Linked DNA regions of Homo sapiens. The protein of the gene in region 1 interacts with the protein of each later gene in a pairwise test. Each region holds a gene or a part of one and is shown in the gene's direction. Other genes may lie near its edges. The genes, in order: CKM, TRIM55 and ASB9.

Evidence for each region.
Region 2: the proteins of CKM (region 1) and TRIM55 interact in a two-hybrid assay, tested with the Homo sapiens proteins (one study listed by BioGRID).
Region 3: the proteins of CKM (region 1) and ASB9 interact in binary tests that used the Homo sapiens proteins (3 or more experiments, as listed by UniProt).

Annotation. Positions count from the first base shown.
Region 1 is NC_000019.10:45,312,845-45,319,954, reverse strand, and holds part of CKM (creatine kinase M-type), read left to right. Parts: intron 1-223; 5' UTR 224-241; coding exon 242-434; intron 435-1,975; coding exon 1,976-2,130; intron 2,131-4,357; coding exon 4,358-4,490; intron 4,491-7,110. UniProt on the Homo sapiens protein: Reversibly catalyzes the transfer of phosphate between ATP and various phosphogens (e.g. creatine phosphate).
Region 2 is NC_000008.11:66,151,019-66,158,128, forward strand, and holds part of TRIM55 (tripartite motif-containing protein 55), read left to right. Parts: intron 1-1,358; coding exon 1,359-1,609; intron 1,610-3,028; coding exon 3,029-3,316; intron 3,317-4,604; coding exon of another isoform or gene 4,605-4,692; intron 4,693-7,110. UniProt on the Homo sapiens protein: E3 ubiquitin ligase that plays an important role in regulating cardiac development and contractility, muscle growth, metabolism, and fiber-type differentiation.
Region 3 is NC_000023.11:15,267,021-15,273,972, reverse strand, and holds the start of ASB9 (ankyrin repeat and SOCS box protein 9), read left to right. Parts: upstream 1-3,889; 5' UTR 3,890-4,098; coding exon 4,099-4,192; intron 4,193-6,952. UniProt on the Homo sapiens protein: Substrate-recognition component of a cullin-5-RING E3 ubiquitin-protein ligase complex (ECS complex, also named CRL5 complex), which mediates the ubiquitination and subsequent proteasomal degradation of target proteins.

The DNA of each region.
Region 1 (7,110 bases):
AGCCGGCGTGGTGGCGGGCGCCTGTATTCCCAGCTACTCGGGAGGCTGAGGCGGGAGAATGGTGTGAACCCAGGAGGTGGAGCTTGCAGTGAGCCGAGATCGTGCCACTGCACTCCAGCCTGGGTGACAGAGCGAGACTCCGTCTCAAAAAAAAAAAAAGAAGAAGAAGAAGAAAAAAGATGCCAGCTAATCTTCAATCTTCCCCTCCTGCCCTGCCCATCAGGTCTCCTACACCGCCACCATGCCATTCGGTAACACCCACAACAAGTTCAAGCTGAATTACAAGCCTGAGGAGGAGTACCCCGACCTCAGCAAACATAACAACCACATGGCCAAGGTACTGACCCTTGAACTCTACAAGAAGCTGCGGGACAAGGAGACTCCATCTGGCTTCACTGTAGACGATGTCATCCAGACAGGAGTGGACAACCCAGGTGAGCCTCCCCAGTGGAGCACTGAAGGGGCTACATGGGGGCTCTGGAGGCTGCCGGCCATGCCCCAATCCCACCACCCTTGAAGGGGGGGGGGCCTCAGTTTTCTCATCTGTAAAATGGGGCTGTTGTGGGAATCAATGCATTAATATACATAAAGGCTTGGGACAGTGCGAGGTACTCAGCAAACCACGCAATAAACATGCACGAGAATAATGTGAGATCCCCAAGGAGGTCGGTTCACCTCCTGAACCTCAGTCTCCTCATCTGAAAAATGGGCGCCCACGTTGTGAAAACACAAGTCAATGGCTGTGCAGTGCTTAGAGTGGCACCTGGCACCAAGTGAGTGCTCAAGCTCTGACAGGGGGGCCAGGTGCAGTGGCTCATGCCTGTAATCCCAGCACTTTGGGAGGCCCAGGTGGGAGGATCACTTGAGGCCAGGAGTTTGAGACCAGCCTGAGCAACATAGCAAGACCCTGTCTCTACAAAAAATACAAAAAAATTAGCCAAGTGTGGTGATGAGGGCTTGTGGTCCAAGCTACTCAGGAGGCTGCGGTGGGAGGATCGCTTGAGCCTGGGAGGTGCAGGTTGCAGTAAGCCGAGATCGCGCCACTGTACTCCAGCCACAGAGTGAGACCCTGTCTCAAAAAAAAAAAAAAAGAATCTGACAGGGGATGTTATTAATGTTATGGTTGTTTCTCAAAGGACATTGCAAGGCGAAGAGAGCTGGGAGTGGAGGGGAGGCTCTAGTGCCCCTCACATCCAGCTCACTGTGTGATGCCGGGGAGAAGCCCCTCTCTCCTGGCCCCTGTTTTTCCACTGGGAAACAAGAGGGTCTTTCAAGTCTCTTACCCTCCTGACCCTCTGTGGTACGGTGGTAGCCTGAGATCCTAACATTTCAGGCTAAGATGTCATGACTTTGGGTGCTAATGTTTCCGAGGTGCTGATGCTTTTAGCACCATGTACCCTCTGAAGCTCCCCTTTCTCCTTTGACCCCGCCCCCAGCACTCTTTCTTCTCTCCCACCTTGACCCCTCCCAGCCACCTTGACCTCTCCCAGCCTTCCCTCCCAGTTCCCACCAGTCCTCAGTGTTCTCTCTTTTTTTTTTTTTCCTTTGGAGACAGAGTCTTGCTCTGTCACCCAGGCTGGAGTGCAGTGGTGTGATCTTGGCTCACTGCAACCTCCACTCCCTTGGTTCAAGCAATTCTCATGCCTCAGCCTCCTGAGTAGCTGGGATTACAGGTGTGTGCCCCACACCCAGCTAATTTTTGTATTTTTAGCAGAGATGGGGTTTCACCCTGTTGGCCAGGCTGGTCTCACACTCCTGACCTCAAGAGATTCACCCGCCTCACCCTCCCAAAGTGCTGGGATTGCAGGCATGAGCCACTGTGCCCAACCCTTATGATTCTCAATTCCCACCCAGAGGTATTGAATGTACCCGCCCCCATCCCGACACACATGTCCACACAGGCTCCACTGAGCCCACAAGCCCACGCCCTGTTTGCTGGGGACAAGCAGCTCTGACCTCACCCCCACCCCTCCAGGTCACCCCTTCATCATGACCGTGGGCTGCGTGGCTGGTGATGAGGAGTCCTACGAAGTTTTCAAGGAACTCTTTGACCCCATCATCTCGGATCGCCACGGGGGCTACAAACCCACTGACAAGCACAAGACTGACCTCAACCATGAAAACCTCAAGGTCGGTGTCTGCGCAGGAGGGGAGGGCCGAGGGGTGAGGAGGAGAGAGATCACAGGAGAAATGGGGGGAGACAGAGAAATACAGAGACAGAGAGAGACACAGAGGTGTGGAGAAGCAGAGAGATGGAAAGAGAGAGGGACATTGGGAGGCTGAGGCGAGCGTATCACTTGAGGTCAGGAGTTCAAGACCAGCCTGGCCAACATGGCAAAACTCTGTCTTTAAAAAAAAAAAAAAGGGCTGGGCACGGCGGTGGCTCACGCCTGTAATCCCAGCACTTTGGGAGGCCAAGGCGGGCAGATCACCTTAGATTGAGAGTTTGAGACCAGCCTGACCAACATGGTGAAACCCCGTCTCTACTAAAAATACAGAATTAGCTGGGTGTGGTGGCACATGCCTGTAATCCCAGCTACGTGGGAGGCTGAGGCAGGAGAATCGCTTGAACCTGGAAGGCAGAGGTTGTGGTGAGCAGAGATCGTGCCATTGCACTCCAGCCTGGGCAACAAGGGCGAAACTCGTCTCAAAAAATAAATAAATAAATAAATAAAATAAATTAGCTGGGCATGGTGGCGCGTGCCTGTAATCCCAGCTACTCAGGAGGTGGAGGCAGGAAAATCTCTTGAACCCAGGAGATGGAGGCTGCAGTGAGCTGAGATCATGCCACTGCACTCCAGCCTGGGTGACAGAGCAAGATTCTATCTCAGAAAATAAAAAAAGGAAAGAGAGAGGGACAGAGAGACACAGAGACAGCCAAGGAGACACAGACAACCAAGGAGACAGACAGACAAAGGAGAGGGAGAGGGAGAAGAAAGGCACAAAAGCATGTAGAAAAGGAAGAGGCATAGCCGGGCACAGTGGCTCACGCTTGTAATCCCAACACTTTGGGAGGCTGAGGTGGGCGGATCATAAGGTCAGGAGTTCGAGACCAGCCTGACCAACACGGTGAAACCCAGTCTCTATTAAAAATACAAAAATTAGCTAGGCATGCTGGTGTTCACCTATAATCCTAGCTATTCAGCCTGGGTGACAGAGCGAGACTCTGCCTAAAAAAAAAAGGGTGGGGGGAGAGGCAGAGACACAGAGGGAGACAGAAGGGAGCATCAGAGAAGGCAGGAGAGACAGGGAGAGAGAGACACACGCAGTTGCAGTCAGACACAGACAAGGAGAGTGGGAGAAAGGGAGACAGGAAGAGAAACAGAAATGGGCAGAAAGGCTGGGTGCAGTGGCTATACCTGTAATCCCAGCACTTATGGAGGCTGAGGTGTGAGGATCACGTGAAGCCAGGAGAGTTCACGACCAGCTTGGGCAACATAGCAAGAACCCGTCTCTGCCCAAAAAAAAGAAAAAAAAAAGCCTAAAAATTTAGCTAGGCATGGTGGCTCATGCCTGTAATCCCATCACGTTGGGAGGCTGAGGCAGGAGGACTGTTTGAGCCCAGGAGTTTGAGACCAGCCTGGGCAACATAGTGACACCCTGTCTCTATTTTTTTTTTTTTTTTGAGACAGAATCTCACTCTGTCACCCAGGTTGGAGTGCAGTGGCTCGATCTCAGCTCACGGAAACCCCTGATCCCCAGGTTCAAGTGATTCTCGTGCCTCAGCCTCCTGAGTAGCTGGGATTACAGGCGCGCACCACCACGCCCAGCTAATTTTTGTATTTTTAGTAGAAATGGGGTTTCACCATGTTGGCCAAGCTGGTTTCGAACTCCTGACCTCAGGTGATTGGCTCACCTCGGCTTCCCAAAGTGTTGGGATTACAGGTGTGAGCCACCGCGCCCAGCCCCTGTCTCTATTTATAAAAAATTTATTTTAAGTTAGCCGAACATGGTGGCATATACCTACCTGTTAGTCCCAGCTACTTGGGAGGCTGAGGCAGGGGAATTGCTTGAGCCCAGGAGTTTGAGGTTGCAGTGAGCTATGATGGCACCACTGCACTCCAGCCTGGGCGACAGAGAGAGACCCTGTCTCGAAGAAAAAAAAGGAAAAGAAATATACGAAGATGGGGAGAGAGAGGTATAAAGAAAAACAGAGATAGGAGAGGGGAGAGAGACAGAGAAGGGAGAGACAGAGCCCAGGTATGGGTGGCGGGGAGAGGCTCCACACACCCAATCAGTGAGGATGCAGAAGGCAAAGGAAGCAACAGGGAGACTGAGGGGAGCATCTGGGGGAGACCTGGGCTTGCTGGAGAGGGCGGAGGATCTGCCTGGTCCTGATCTCCCACCCGCTCTCCAGGGTGGAGACGACCTGGACCCTAACTACGTGCTCAGCAGCCGCGTCCGCACTGGCCGCAGCATCAAGGGCTACACGTTGCCCCCACACTGCTCCCGTGGCGAGCGCCGGGCGGTGGAGAAGCTCTCTGTGGAAGGTGAGCGCCCCTACCCCGTCCACTGCTGGGGTCACCCAGCCCTGGCTCTGTTCCTCCATGGGCAGGTCCTCGGGTCTCTTTGGGCCCCCGCTTTTCAAAGTAGGGGAAGAGCTTGGTAAATCGTGGGGGCTTGGGGAATGGCGCGGGCTGTCAGCATTACCTGCTGTGTTGGAGATTCAGGGATGCTGTCCAGACCCGACGGCCCCTGAGAAGACCTACGCAGACACCTGGCTGCCCCCAGCGTCCTGCCATCCGTTCATCCAGCACACATTTCCAGGGGTTCTTGCCCTGTGTGGGGAGATAGGGGTCCCTCACTGTTCTCACAGAGTGTTCAGCTGGTGGGGAGACAAGAGGAAATACAGAAACCCACAGATGAACAAGATAATTCAAAAGTGCCATGAAGCCAAGACATGGGTGTGGTGGAGAATGACCGAGGGGAGCCACCTCAGATAGGAGGAGTTGAGGCCGGGCACAGTGGCTCCCACAGCAGTGCGGGAGGCCTAGGAGGGAGGGTCGCTTGAGCCCAGGAGTTCAAGACCAGACTGGGCAATACAGCAAGACCCTGTCTCTACAAAAAAGACAAAAATGAGCCAGGAGTGGTGGCACACACCTGTCATCCCAGCTACTCAGGAGACTGAGGTGGGAGGATCACTTGAGCCCGGGAGGTTGAGGCTGCAGTGAATCGTGATTGTGCCACTGCACTCCAGCCAGGGTGACAGAGTGAGAACCTGCCTCAAAAACAAATAAAAAGAGGCCAGGCACAGTGGCTCACACCGTAATCCCAGCATTTTGGGAAGCTGAGGCAGGTGGATCATTTGAGGTCAGGAGTTTGAGACCAGCCTGGCCAACATGGTAAAACCCCATCTCTACTAAAAATACAAAAATCAGCTGGGTCTGGTGGCACACACCTGTAATCCCAGCGACTTGGGAGACTGAGGCAGGAGAATCGCTTGAACCTGGGAGGCAGAGGTTGCAGTGAGCTGAGATCACGCCACTGCACTCCAGCCTGGGGGACAGAGTGTGACTCCATCTCAAAAAAAAAAGTTATGTTTATCCTATACTGTAGTCTGTTAAGTGCACAATAGCATTATGTCTAGAAAAAAAAAAGTACATACCTTAATTTTAAAATCCTGCTAAAAATGTTGTGATCATTTGAGGACTCAGCAAGTTGGAACCTTTCTGTTGTGTAGGGCCTTGCCTTGATGTTGATGGGCTGCTGACTGATCAGGGCGGTTGTCGTTCAAGGTTGAGATGGCTGCGGCAATTCCTTCCTTCCTTCCTTCCTTCCTTTCCTTTCTTTTCTTCCTCCCTTCCTTCCCTTCCTTCCCTCCCTCCCTTCCTTCCCTTCCCTTCCCTTTTCTTCTCCGTCCTTCCTTCCTTCCTTCTTTCCTCCCTCCCTTCCTCCCTTCCTTCCTTCCTTCTCTTTCTCTCTCTCTTTTCAAGACAGGGTCTTGTTCTGTTGCCCAGCTGGAATGCAGTGGTGCAATCATGACTTACCATAACCTCCAACTCCTGGGCTTAAGTGATCCTCCCATGTTGGTCTCCCAAAGTGCTGGCATTACAGGTGTGAGCCACAGTGCCTGGCCAGCAGTAATAGTTTGAAAAGAATCTCTTTTTTGAGATGGAGCCACACTCTTGTCGCCCAGGCTGGAGTGCAGTGGTGCAATCTTGGCTTACTGTTACCTCCACCTCGTGGTTCAAGCAATTCTCGTGTCTCAGCCACCCAAGTAGCTGAGATCACCGGCATGCGCCACCACGCCTGGCTAATTTTTGTATTTTTAGTAGAATCGGGGTTTCGCCATCTTGGCCAGGCTGGTCTCAAACTCCTGATCTCAGGTGATCTGCCTGCCTCAGCCTCCCAAACCACTAGGATTACAGGCGTGAGCCACCGCACCTGGCCTATGAAGCTTTTTATTTAAAGTGAAAAATGTTGACTCTTCCTTTCACTTGAACACCTCGAGGCCATTGTAAGGTTATGAACTGAATTGGCCTGATTTCAAAATCATGTGTCTCAGGGAATACGGAGGCTCAAGGAGATGGGGAGAGATGAGGGAATGGCTGGTCAGTGGGGCAGTCCGAGCACACACATTTATCCATTAAGTTCACCCTTTTATATGGGCAAGGTCGGTGGCACCCCCCAAAATTAAAACAGTAACATCAGAGATCACTGATCACGGATCGCCATGACAGATATAGTAATAATGAGAAAGTCTGCAGTACTGTGAGAATTACCCACATGTGACACAGAGACACGAAGTGGCACATGCTGTAGGAAAAATGGCTCCAATAGACCTGCTGGACAAAGAGTTGCCACAAACCTCCAATTTGTAAAAAACACAGTATCTGCAAAATGCAATAAAACGAGGTATGTCTGTATATTATATGAATATGTATAAGATATATAAATATTATAGATTTATTGTACATATGCACAAACACAAATTCATTATACACATATTTTATACATGAATATACAAATAAACACACAATTTTTTTTCTTTTTTTTTTTTTTAGACAGAATCTCACTCTGTCACCCAGGCTGGAGTGCAGTGGCAAAATCTCAGCTCACTGCAACCTCCACCTCTTGGGTTCAAGTGTTTCTCGTGCCTCAGCCTCTTGA
Region 2 (7,110 bases), on another chromosome or scaffold:
TCATAATTGATAATGATGATATCTCAACTTCAATCCTATGCACAGTGTTAGCCAAAATAATGTAAAGTGTCAGCAGGAGCAAGGTTAAAGATGAGATAAAAACAATACATAGGAGGCATGTGGGTTAGATATTGCAGCACATCAACTTAATCAAAATTTAGAGGACAAGAATAGTAACAACTCATAGAATAAGTCACAACCTGAACATAAACCTGGGTCTGTGTGACTAGTTATACTCCCTGAGCTATAACCACATTCCTACCTTTTGGCCCAGAAGTCCCATTTCTGAAATTTTATCCTGATTAAATAATTGAAAAGTGAAAAACAATCTTGGAGCTGACCAAAACTTTGATCACTTTGACTCATGCTAGCCCACCTAGATGATCACACCCCTCAGCTAGACCACTAGACCACTAGTAATGCTATGAGGCTGCACCAACATCCACAGACAAAATTTTAAAGGCAAATCTTTAGGATGTATCTTTTTAAAAAAATCGCTTAATATTGCCTGTCCTTAATGTCGCCTGAGGGAATATTAAGATCAGTGGGTCAGGAAAAGAGTCACGGCATTCCAGCACTTTGGGAGGCCAAGGCGGGTGGATCACTTAAGGCCAGGAGTTTGAGACCAGCCTGGCCAACATGGTGAAACCCCATCTCTACTAAAAATACAAAAAAATTAGCCGGGCGTGGTGGCGTACGCCTGTAATCCCAGCTACTCCAGAGGCAGAGGCAGGAGAATCACTTGAACCCAGGAAGCGGAGGTTCCAGTGAGCTGAGATTGCACCACTGCACTCCAGCCTGGGTGACAGAGTGAGACTCTGTCTCAAAAAATAATAAATAAATAAATAAATAAATAAATAAATAAATAAATAAATAAAAGAGTCGTGACATTAATTATGGCAAAAGTCAGTATTCACTGAACAACAGAGGTAGAAAGCTAAAATGACAAAAGGGCTTTGTATGTTTTCTGAGACAGGGAAGACAGTTGCACTTCCATTTAATCTGACAGAGATAAATAAGTGACAATCCCAGGCCTCCAGGAGCTTGCAGATGTGGCAGACTGTAATAAAAATGTGGACGGGCTCTGGAAGGTGAAGGGCATTATGCACAGCAGAGGTGAAGACTTTGTACTGGGGAGGAGAACAAGGAGGATAGGGATGGTTCCTTCACATTTGTCCAGTCCACATTCCACTAGAAGCACAAAGCCCTGGCACGGCACACTTGGACCATTGTCAAGTGTCTGTCAGAGAAAAACTCCCCAGCCTTGACCTTAACTAGGGCTATAAGCACTGGCCATTAACTGTGTCCATGGCTGCAGAGATAGTTATAACAATTTACAAGATACCTTACCTTACCAGAAGATGAAGATGAAGAAGAAGAAGAAGGCGGAGAAGGAGAAAAAGAAGGAGAAGGAGAAGTGGGAGGAGAAGCAGTAGAAGTGGAAGAGGTAGAAAATGTTCAAACAGAGTTTCCAGGAGAAGATGAAAACCCAGAAAAAGCTTCAGAGCTCTCTCAGGTGGAGCTGCAGGCTGCCCCTGGGGCACTTCCAGTTTCCTCTCCAGAGCCACCTCCAGCCCTGCCACCTGCTGCGGATGCCCCTGTGACACAGGTAACCCCTCCTGAGTCTCTTTCTACAGGGCACATGGGCGTGTCTCCTTATGGAATAGCCTAAACAATTTACCCTATTCTGCCTTAAGAAAAAGATAACTATATGCCAGACATTCGTATATGGTAGACGAAAGATTTCAGGACAGTCCTCATGTCGGGGAGAAAAGTCCTCTAGGTGATTCAACAGGTTCTTTGTTGTTATTGTTAGTTAACAAAATTTAATACAACTTTCCCACCAGTAATGCCCTCAAATCAAAGGCAATCTTTGTCTGGAAATTGTGTGTGTGTGTGTGTGTGTGTGTGTGTGTGTGTGTGTGTGTCCATGTCTGTGTGTCATGTTAATTCATAGAGAGCTGATATCATGGGGACTGGGTCTGCTCTTTGTTACTTAGTGAATGTATATGTAGGGTATAGGATGAGAAATAAATAGCATACAGAGTAAGAAATAAAAGTGATTATACTTTCAGAACTTTGAATTTTCTGTAGATAATTGAGGGGGTAAATAGAGAAACTACACTAGTTTATGTTCCTGTTGCTTACCCTGAAATACAACTTATGTATTTTTCCTTCAGTGAGCAAACAATGAAGCCTGGTTTTCTATGGATTTGTCATTTGATGAGATTGTGTGTTGACAGAATTGTTTAAAACATATCTTAAGAAATAAGCTCACCCCAGATGCTGCACCTAATTGGTTGACCTCATGTTTCTAATACGTCACCGTCCAGTTTTCAAGCCTTTGTGCAGACTCCATGATACTTCAGCAGACAGGATCCCAACCTTTTGAGTTTGCAGGCAGTGCAGACTCATCAGAGAGGAGTCCTGCTTCTGCAACTGCTTTTGAAGTGGATTGAAACAAAACTCCAGAGGGGGATCTCAGAGATGGAACTGTATTTCTATGCTCTGTCTCCACAGGAAACCAGGCTAAAATGCCATTTATAGTCTAGAATTTTTAAATTCTGAGCATTTCAGTTGTATTAAAATTGAAAGAGGTATAGTAACTAAGTGAGGGTTGGATTTGATCAATAAGATTAATTTTTGTTTTTTATAATGAGGTTTTTGGGACTCACGTATAAAGCCAACAAATTATTCTAGTCAATAGTTTGACCCTTTTCCCATATCTGATATTTTATAACCAACATTCACTGAGGTTTCTGCTCTCTGCCTGCCTGGGCTCCCAGTGAGTGAAAGACAAGCTCAGAAAAGAAGAGGGCACCCATCCAGATGCTGGACAGAGGGGCACTGTAGTCACCATTCTGCCCTTAGCGCTTCTGGAGGGTGGGATGAACTAAAACGGCCACCAAGGCACTGCATGCAGGGAGCGCACAGTGTTCAAACCCAAAGGGAACTAAAATCAACTGCTTTTTCTTCTTCTTCTTCTTTTTTTTTTTCTTTACTTTTGAATTTATCTGTCCTGATTAAGGGGGAGGTTGTACCCACTGGCTCTGAGCAGACCACAGAGTCTGAAACTCCAGTCCCTGCAGCAGCAGAAACTGCGGATCCCTTGTTTTACCCTAGTTGGTATAAAGGCCAAACCCGGAAAGCCACCACCAACCCACCTTGCACCCCAGGGAGCGAAGGTCTGGGGCAAATAGGGCCTCCAGGTTCTGAGGATTCGAATGTACGGAAGGCAGAAGTGGCAGCAGCCGCAGCGAGTGAGAGGGCAGCTGTGAGTGGTAAGGAAACTAGTGCACCTGCAGCTACTTCTCAGGTTAGTGATGATGCACTTGTGTCTATGCTTTCCCGCGCCCCCTAGGGTCCCACTGGAACAGGCCACAGCAAGAAGAAAAAGGGTTTTCAAAGGGGCAGAGAGAAACCTCAGCCAGGGGAAAAGTACAGAAACAATTCATCCCCCAATGTTGGCTTGTTTTGAGCTCTATATAAAAGAAAACATAAAACAAAACAAATTTGAGTTCACTCTCCTGGTGCATGGTGACCTCACACCTGGCTTCCCAGGGGAGGGGTGCAAGTGAGCCTGGCCCTTAGGCATGCTACTGAGCGCTGCTTCATCTGCAGTGACTGGCTGTGTCCCCAGTCCTCCTTACCAACGGCCACTTGCCCTTGCTCAGCCTTCCCTGTGTCCTCCTTGGGCTTCTAAAGACTAATCCCCTGCTTTTGTGTCATTCCCAGCAACCCCCAAGGAGCACACTTGAGTTTTAAGTCTGTTCTGGAGAATAACCTCTGATTCATGGATTCTTGGAGTGTGCTGGCTACAGCTAGACAGAGACAGTCTTGGCTTGATTAAACCTGTGCTTCCTAAGCATGTACTCCTGGGAGTGGAAAAGCACAGGTGCTCCTCCACAGAGATTTTTTTCAAGAGACTCTTTCTTTATATGATGAGTTTGAAGTCCATGTCTTCCCCCTAACACTTGGTTAGATGTTTGCATGTCTTGAAGAGTCCACAGAAGAAATCTTTTACAATTTCTTCACAAGGAAGAATGTTCATGGTGACTCCATACTCATGAGCATTCTTAAATGATGTGTAGGGTGTGAGTGTTGCCCAGGCAAGAAGCTGCCAGAAAGCACTCTCCAGTTCCATGCTCCTGGGTCATCAGGTGATTGATTATGAACCACAAACAACATGTTCTCAAAAATCAGACAATGACTTATTATTTTGATTGTATCTGCCCAAGAGACTTCAATTCCATGAGGTAGTAAAAGGAAATGATTTTGGAAAATTAAAAGTAACATGCTTTGGGGTTGGATGTTTATTTTCACAGATAAAATGACAAAAATAAATGTTTGGTGGGAAGAAATCTTATGAGGTGGTTTTTAGGTAAAAGATGCAGTAGACTGATTATTTCTAGAAAATGTGTGGCAATTCTTATACATGGTAGTAGAAGCTGTGTGCGGAGGGGCTGTTTTCTGAAAACAGTAGTGCACTACCCCATGAAGAGCACGTAGTAGGGCTCAAGCCAAAATGAAAAGTCCATTGAAATAATGTTGAAAATAATTATTTGTGATAATATCAGTGAAGCTTTCTTCTTGTTTTCTCACAGGAGTTAGTAATCTGCCTAGCGCTTTTGGCTTTTCTTATTCTTCACTACATCTGGAGTCAGATTCAGTGCTTGATTTTTACTTTAATGGGTAGGAAATATTTTCTTTTCCCTTGACTAACATCTCACATAGTTTCTTCCATAATGTTCCTCTTCTATAGGCCCAGAGATTAATTTCTCCCCAAATCTTGAGGCTCAGTCCTCCCAAAAGAACATTGTTCTCAGATTATACTGGAGGCCTCAAGCTCACACAATGCAATCGCCTCAAGACCTCTTTCTGAGGAGAATTGCTCCATTATCTATTCCTGCATGGAGGGGAACCTTGACTGAGAACAGTAACTCCATGGGCAATTATTCAGTAATCCAGGAGGAGCAAACCCTCCAGAATGGTCATTAGGGGAGGCCAGTTTCAAGTGTCCATAATGCGGTGAGGACTTACTGCTCGTAGAGAAAGGAGCGGCAAAGGACTCCTGCAGGAAAATGCAGGTTTCCATAGATTAAGTACAAGCATTTCATCTGCTTACACCAGAGATGCCCAGGAGGTGGCCAAGTGACTCCTCGTGGGATGATGTTCTAGGCAGTTCCTATGCAGGTGAGCAGGTGGGTTCTCTTTGAACCCTCAGACTCTACAGAGTTTCTCCTGGGAGAGGAGGTCCCTGAGAGAAAGATGCCCTGACTGAAGAAATATCTGGGGGATTGCAGCCACGTGAGACCTGAATGAATTAACAGCCAGAGGATCAATGTGCACTTACCAGCTATCAGGAATTAGAACCAAGAACTAAGCCATAAAGTCATCAAGCAGTCCATTTATATTATTTCCGAGTCACCGTTCTCATAGCCAAGCCTTTGCTTGATTGCTGTTATGAGGTTTGCTTGAGGACTGACATCATAATCCTTTAATACCCTTTTGAAAGTTCTCAGTTTAATTAATAATATTTAAAGATTCCAACTTCCATGTACTTTTGTGTAAATGACCCTGCTGGGCCTGAGACCCAACTCCTTGTTCCTGTAGCTCAAAGGCAGTTCAGGGTCAATGGTGCTGAAAAGCCTCGGCTATTTCTGGCTCACTGACTTTTCCCTGGGTTGACACTGACTCTTCTGGAAGCTCCCTTCATAGACTTTCTGCCTCATTAGCCATCTGCTCAGCAATGGCGGTGGCGTCTCCATTGGTCTCTGCCGTGTCTGGAACTGTGTGTGAGCAGGACCTGCCCACAATGTCCAATAGTCAGCTGGAAACCTGTGCACCCTAGAGTGTCCTGAGTGTCCTTACAGTCTGCTCAGCTGCCCAACTCCTTCAGACATTATCTGTGGTAAAAAGGAGTGGGAGGATGTATTGGCCATGGACTCAGAGGGGTGAATGGTGAGAGAGAAAACTCCATGCTTTATTGGAACCAGGACCTAATTGTGGATCTGAATAATTGTCTGAAGGGTTCTGTTTACATTCTGAGAATTCGGGTTTAGGGCTTTGTCACTACATATATGTCTTGTATTGCTTCTCTGAGGCTGCAGAGGGAGTGTCATGCTTCAAGGCTGTGATCCACTGAGCCCATGTCATGTATGCTGACATCCACGTGCCTGCCTAGGGAGAGGAGGGTGGGGCAGGTGGAGCAGGTGTGGGGAGGGCGTTGACATCCAGTATTGCAAAAAACCTTACTGTATAGTTCTTGGTGTTTGAGGAAGGGCCTTTCACATAGAGAAGGACACCTGTTCATGATGGAGTACTACTCTTTGATCCCAGAAATGGGATATGGGCAGGTTGATAGAGACCTCACTATAGTAGCAAATTCCCGGCCTCTGAGAATATTTTGCAGGTCTGATTCACCTTCACCACTTCAGAACCCAGTTTACCAGATTCATATTTGTCCAGTTCAAGGTTAGAGTGCTAGAATTTCACATTTCATCACTAGGCTTACCTTGAGTATTTAGGATGTGGTAAGAGTTCTCTTTGATTCAGTGGTGGTCTTATCTCTCTTTACTAGGTGGTCCCGTGTCAGAGTAATGCTGCCTTTAAAACTCAGAAGCATCTCAGGCTCACTTGCTGATCTGTAAACTACATTCAGCCCACAACAGCTGAACTGCAAACCTTTTAGAAGCAAATGCTCTATTTCCTGGTGCTTTCCTTACATCCATGTACACAGTGAAACATGCCCTCGATTTTACTGCCTGTGGTTTCTGGTGCTGAACAATTTCTGCTTTATCACATACCTTACCTTCTCTCTTCACCCAAGTACACAGGCAAAAAAAACCGGTCATGGCAAAAACCAAACATCAGCTTCCTCTACGAGTGATGGACAGGACCACTACTTTTTGTTAGATCAGAAGAGTGCTGTAGCTCCCCCATGGGCATTCTCTAAGAAAAAGCAAGGTTTGGATTCAGCCTTGTGGTGAATTTGAACTCATCAAAGGCCCCAGTTTCCTTGGGCTTCTACAGGATCTCTATTTGGTGGATTAACTCAGCAGCTGCTCTGGCTGATACTTGAGCTGGACACAGCAGCTGCCTCAGGGTAAG
Region 3 (6,952 bases), on another chromosome or scaffold:
TTCCTCCATAAACCCCTTCACTCAGCCCAAAAAGTTGGAACGGTCTTTCAAAGGCAGGCCATTCTCCAACTGGTAATGTGTCCGGAGTTGGTTCCTTCCAGTGGGTTCTTGGTCTTGCTGACTTCAAGAATGAAACCATGGACCTTTGTGGTGAGTGTTACAGCTCTTAAAGGTGGCACAGACCCAAAGAGTGAGCAGCAGCAAGATTTATTCTGGAGAGTGAAAGAACAAAGCTTCCACAGCATGGAAGGAGACCCGAGCAGGTTGCTGCTGCTGGCTGGGGGGGTGGCCAGCTTTTATTCCCTTATTTGTCCCCGCCCACATCCTGCAGATTGGTCCATTTTACAGAGCGCTGATTGGTCCATTTTACAGAGTGCTGATTGGTGCATTTACAATCCTTTAGCTAGACACAGAGCACCGATTGGTGCGTTTTTACAGAGTGCTAATTGGTGCATTTACAATCCTTTGGACACAGAGCGCTGATTGGCGTGTTTTTAAGTGCTGATTGGTGCATTTACAATCCTTTAGCTAGACACAGAGTGCTGATTGGTGCATTTTTACAGAGTACTGATTGGTGCGCTTACAATCCTTTAGCTAGACACAGAGCACTGATTGGTGCGTTTTTACAGAGTGCTGATTGGTGCGTTTACAATCCTTTAGCTAGACACAGAGCGCTATTGGTGGGTTTTTATGGAGTGCTGATTGGTCCTTTTACAATTCTTTAGCTAGACACAAAAGTTCTCCAAGTCCCCACTCCACCCAGGAATTCCAGCTGGCTTCATCTCTCAGCAGCATTTAGATAAAGTTGATTTCCTTTCACCATACCTCTCGCTTCTTAAGTTTTCAGCCTCTTAGCAGCTGGACTTGAGCCGGCTACATTGGGGAGGAAAGAGTCTCCTAAACCATACCTGAGGTGTGCCTTGGACATCTAAGTGAGGGGTGGGGCAGAGGCCCTGGCTAGTGTGAACACTGCTCCTGGTGAGGAATGACTGTGGCCTTATCATCTGCTGCAGGCAACGATCATTCTGTTTTCTAACCTAACCTGTGCCAATTTCACTGAACATCCAGACACACACACTGACACACACCAAGGCTGACTAGAAGTTGGTAAGATTGCTTTTCTCTTATGGCTGTTGGTAAGCCAACCAATTTCTCCATAATCAAAGCTCATACACATGTGATTCAACTTTATCCTCATACAAATCCACAAATGCATGAACTCCCCTTGTAAAGAACTGTTGTTAAACAGTTTAAAAATTCATCTCCAATCCTCCTATTCACTGGTGTTGATCAACATCATAAATAAAATGAGAAGATTAAAGGCTGATGAATTAATTCCCTCCCAGGTACTAGGGAAACAACCTGGAAATCTTCTTTATTGTCATTTTGGAACTTAATTTTGAATATGGAAAAGGCTTATCTACTTGGAATTTAATTAAAAGTAAATAAAGAAGCTGTAGTACAAAGATTTTACTGGGAAGGAAAGGAAATAGTATCCAGTTTCCCCATTGTGCCCTTCTGTTCAACTCCTCATCCAGTCTGTGTTGGGAATCAATTCCTCACTCTCTGCCAAACAAATGTATCATTCTTCAGATCTTTCCTGATGGAGTGGTAAAGAATTTGTATGCTTATGGCCTTCTCAGTTAATTCTGCAAATAGAGATAGAGGGAAGTTTAGTAGTGTTTATCCAAATTTTAAATGAGCAGCCTCTTTTCAAAAAGTGCAATTTGTATTGAGATCATTACAGATTCACATGCAGTTGTAAGAAATCACATAGAGATCTCCAGTGCACTTTGCCCAGTTTCCCTCAATGGTGACTTTTTGCAAAACTATAGTACAATATTGTAACTGGGAAATCAACATTCATACAATCTACTGATCTTATTCAATTCCCCGGTTTTACTTGTACTCATTCCTGTGTGTGTCTTCAGTTTTATACAATTTATTACATGTGCATAAGTATGCCTTTGACTTAGCATTTCCACTCTTAGGAATCTCTCCTCTAGAAATATTTGCCTATGTGCACAAAGCCACATGTACAAAAATATGAACTTTAGTCCTTTCATAGTACTAACAGAAATAATGACATTCTGCTTGCATCATTAGGAGCATAATTAAATACTTCTGGCACAATATGGAATGCTATGCAACAGTGAATAAAGACAGGAGCATACCTATAAAAGCTGATATGGAAAGCTCTCACAGACAAAATAAGTGTAAAAAGCATAGAATAATAGAATAATATAGGGGCCGGGTGCGGTGGCTCACGCCTGTAATCCTAGCACTTTGGGAGGCCAAGGAAGGGGGATCACGTGAGATCAGGAGTTTGAGGCCAGCCTGGCCAACATGGTGAAACCCTGTTTCTACTAAAAATACTAAAATTAGCTGGGCACAGTGGTGCGCTCCTGTAATCCCAGGTACTCAGGAGGCTGAGGCAGGAGAATTGCTTGAGCTCAGGAGGTGAAAGTTGCAGTGAGCCGATATGACACCATGGCACTCGAGTCCAGGTGACAAAGTGAGACCCTGTCTCAAAAAAAAAAGAATAATATAGGTACATTTATGTGGAAAATGTAAATTGATAAATGTGCATACATGTGTATGCATATAAATGCCTTTAAAAACGTGAATTACACCCCTCAAACTGTTAATAACAGCCACCAAATGTTTTAACTGAGACTCCGTAAATCTAAAACATCTAGGCCTCATCTTTGGCATTAAGACAAATCTGCAATCACTTCACAGCCAGTCTATGCTTGAGACTTAACTCAGAGCCTTCCCCCATGGGGATGAAAAATCCTCTTCTACCTGGAAGAGAGGAATGGTGGGAGTCTAGAGGTGCCTGTCAGCCTGAAGTAGCACCCAGGGGTGTGAGGCAACTGGGTTTATCTGAAAAGACATGGACACAGTACATCCAAATTTTTTTTTTTTTGAGGTGGAGTCTCGCACTGTCGCCTGGGCTAGAGTGCAGTGGCATGATCTCGGCTCACTGCAACCTCTGCCTCCTGGGTTCAAGCGATTCTCCTGCCTCAGCATCCCGAGTAGCTGGGATTACAGGCGCCTGCCACCAGGCCCAGCTAATTTTTTTGTATTTTTAGTAGAGACGGGGTTTCACTATGTTAGTCAGGCTGGTCTCAAACTCCTGACCTCGTGATCCGCCCGCCTTGGCCTCCCAAAGTGCCGGGATTACAGGCATGAGCCACCGCGCCCGGCCCCTAATGTTTTGTATAAGCAAAAACAGCAAAACGTTAACAAAATAAATTTTAGTAATTCACAATGAAAAGATAGCAGGTCTCTTCCACATCTCAGGCCACCTAGCAATCCATTTTTCCAATTGCAACCGTTCATTATTTATTTAGAAGTTAAAATGAGTGGAGGAGGGGTGAGGTAGGACATTTAGTGAAATTCTTGCAGCTGAAAGGAACAAATGGTTCTTTCCAAAGGTACATTTTTTGTAACATATAGACACATTTCCCATAAGAAACTCCCAGCACAATTGAAAGCACATGTACAGATGGCCAGGGCGTGCTGTGCATGTTACTGTGCAAGCAATTCAGCAGGGCTGCTGCAAAACCAGCTTTCTCAGCTCTGGGTGCTCGGGCTTGTCTCCATAACAAGCTACCATGTAACAAACGGATCTCAGCAGGGTGAACAACAGTTGCAGAAAGTGAGCTGTTTCCTTCACCCCCACCCTGCTCCCTTCACTCTCAAAAGTTACAAACTGAGTTTCCTTCCTGATAAACTCCAAGGCTTCCTCACTGATTGGTCTCAGTTTGGGAAAGGACGTGACATCAGCAACTTCGCAGACTTAGGGCTGGAGGGTTCTTGTGGCCTCTGGCGGGCCTCCAGCCAGTTAGGTAAAACGTGTGTGTGTGTGTGTGTGTGTGTGTGTGTACACGAGCGCATGCCTCTCTCTGATCACAGGTAGCACTCAGATTACCCTGCCTGCTCTGTGCTTTGCTGCAGACCATTTGACCAGAACGTGTGCAGCTCAGCCAGCCACAGAACTGGAATTTTTCAGGAGCAGGGGGAGCATGGAGTTTGGACTTTGCTGAGCAACTGAAGTGGAGCGCAGAGCTTGCTCGCTTAGGAGAGAGCATCATGGATGGCAAACAAGGGGGCATGGATGGGAGCAAGCCCGCGGGGCCAAGGGACTTTCCTGGCATCAGGCTTCTTTCAAACCCATTGATGGGCGGTGAGTCATAGGGGCAGTGGAATCAGCCCTGGGGAGGTTGGCTAATGTGCTTAGGAGAGGAGGGTTGGGCAGTTTCAGTGGCTCTGTGTGAGGTGTCCATGGGGCTGTTACTGGGCAGATGTCCACAGCTCACTGGTATATATTCTTTACACAGCTGTTCAAAAATGTGTATACTTCTTTCTGCAGAATCCTACAGACAAGACAAATTCAATTGTCACAAATTATTCTCCAGTGAAAATTTCAGCTCCCAGGAATCATTCTTTGTGGGTCAAATGCATTATTTATTAAATTGGAGGTTTGAAAGTTACTTATAAATAGGAAAATTTTTAATGCTAAAACTTTTTAATTTGTAAGTCTTAGGTGTTTGGCATTTAGGTGGGGCAGGGTTTATAAAGATGTTCAAACATTGAGCACTGATTGAGTCACTTTCAAAAGAGACAAAAGAGACTTTGTTTTACTTAAAACATTGGAGAATCATCTTACAGGTATTGTTCTCATCTGTCAAGTGGTGTCTGTGCTAATGTACAGAATCCCACAAATACACACTTCGGTGAGCATTCAGCAGGTGCCTGTTGGCTGAAAGGATTCTGAAAAATGGGTTTAGGCATTTGCACACAGGTTCTTATAAATAATAGTATATTGGTTAGTAATATACTGGTTAACTCTCCAGCCCCAAGTCTGCAAACTTGCTGATGTCACGTCCTTTCCCAAACTGAGACCAATCAGTGAGGAAACCTTGGAGTTTATCGGGAAGGAAACTCAAAGTTCGTAACTTTCGGAGAGCAAAGGGAGCAGCAGGGTGAGGGTGAAGGCAACAGCTCACTTTCTGCAACTGTTGTTCACCCTGTTGAGATCCTTGGGGGCTTGTGACGGAGACAAGCCCCAGCACCCAGAGCTGGGAAAGCTGGTGTTGCAGCAGCCCTGCTGAATTGCTGTATTTATTATTTATTAATTTTTTTTTCTTTTTGAGACGGAGTCTTGCTCTGTGGCCCAGGCTGGAGTGCAGTGGCGCGATCTCGACTCACTGCAACCTCCGCCTCCCGGGTTCAGGCCTGTATATATAGGCGGGGCACGGTGGTTTACGCCTGTAATCCCAGTACTTTCGGAGGCCGAGGCGGGCAGATCACGATGTCAGGATACCATCCTGGCCAACATGATGAAATTCCGTCGCTACCTAAAATACAAAAATTAGCTGGGTGTGATGGCACGTGCCTGTAATCCCAGCTACTCGGGAGGCTGAGGCAGGAGAATCACTTGAACCCGGGAGGCGGAGGTTGCAGTGCACCTAGATCTCGCCACAGCACTCCAGCCTGGCGACAGAGTGAGACTCCGTATCAAAGAAAAAAGAAAAAAATATATACCTGGTATACTGTCCACAGCACCTGTTGATCAAAGGGGCAATAAACAGGGACCCTGAAGTCAGGGTGTTTTGTTTTGTTTTGTTTTTTTGAGACGGAGTCTCATTCTGTCGCCTGGGCTGGAGTGCAATGGCGAGATCTCCGCTCACTGCAACCTCTGCCTCCCGGGTTCAAGAGATTCTCCTGCCTCAGCCTCCCGAGTAGCTGGGATTATAAGCGCCCGCCACCACACCCGGCTAATTTTTGTATTTTTAGTAGAGACGGGGTTTCACCACGTTGGCCAGGCTGGTCTAGAACTCCTGACCTCAGGTGATCTGCCCGCCTGGGCCTCCCAAAGTGCTGGGATTACAGGTGTGAGCCACCACGCCCGGCCGTCAGTCAGGGTTTATTAATCTACTATACAGGTACCAAAAAGGTAAAAATGGAAGAAATAAAACACAAAACGTCTTCCCTTTGACTGAGTAGACTAGCCTGCTCATTCATTCATTCATTTATCCAATTTCACTTATAAAATGAGCAGAGTACTCAATGGTGAGTGGGATTTAGATCCACAAAGGCAGAACTGGATTAATCAGCAGATGTATTGAGCATGAGTTTGGAGAACTAGGAAAGCAAGAGTGGCATCAAAAATCACTTTTCACAAAGAATTTCTTTTTTTTTTTTTTTTTTTGTTTTTTTTGAAGTGGAGTTTCACTCTGTCACCCAGGCTGGAATGCAGTGGAGCAATCTCAGCTCACTGCAAACTCCACCTTCCCGTGTTCAAGCGACTTTCCTGCCTCAGCCTCCTGAGTAGCTGGGATTACAGGCGTCCGCCACCACACCCAGCTGATTTTTGTATTTTTAGTAGAGACGGGGTTTCACCATGTTAGCCAGGATGGTCTCAATCTCCTGACCTCGTGATCCGCCCGCCTTGGCCTCCCAAAGTGCTGGGATTACAGGCGTGAGCCACCACGCCCGGCCACTTTTTACAAGGAATTATATATATAATTATATATATATATATATTTTTTTTTTAGATGGAGTCTCGCTCTGTTACCAGGCTGGAGTGCAGTGGCACCATCTCGGCTCACTGCAACCTCGGCCTCCTGGGTTCAAGCAATTCTGCCTCAGGAGGGAGAGGCAGGGACTAGGTGGGACTACAGGCACACGCCTGGCTAATTTTTTGGGGTGTTTTTTTTTTGTATTTTAGTAGAGACGGGGTTTCACCATGTTGCCCCAGGCTGGTCTCCAACTCCTGAGCTCAGGGAAGTCTGCCCGCCTCGGCCTCCCAAAGTGCTAGGATTACAGGTGTGAGCCACTGTGCCCGGCCGATAAATATATTTTTAAAACAGCAAACCAATCATTATGGGAAAGAATCGGTAATTTGGTTGACTTCTGCACGGTTATTTTATAGCTAAGTATT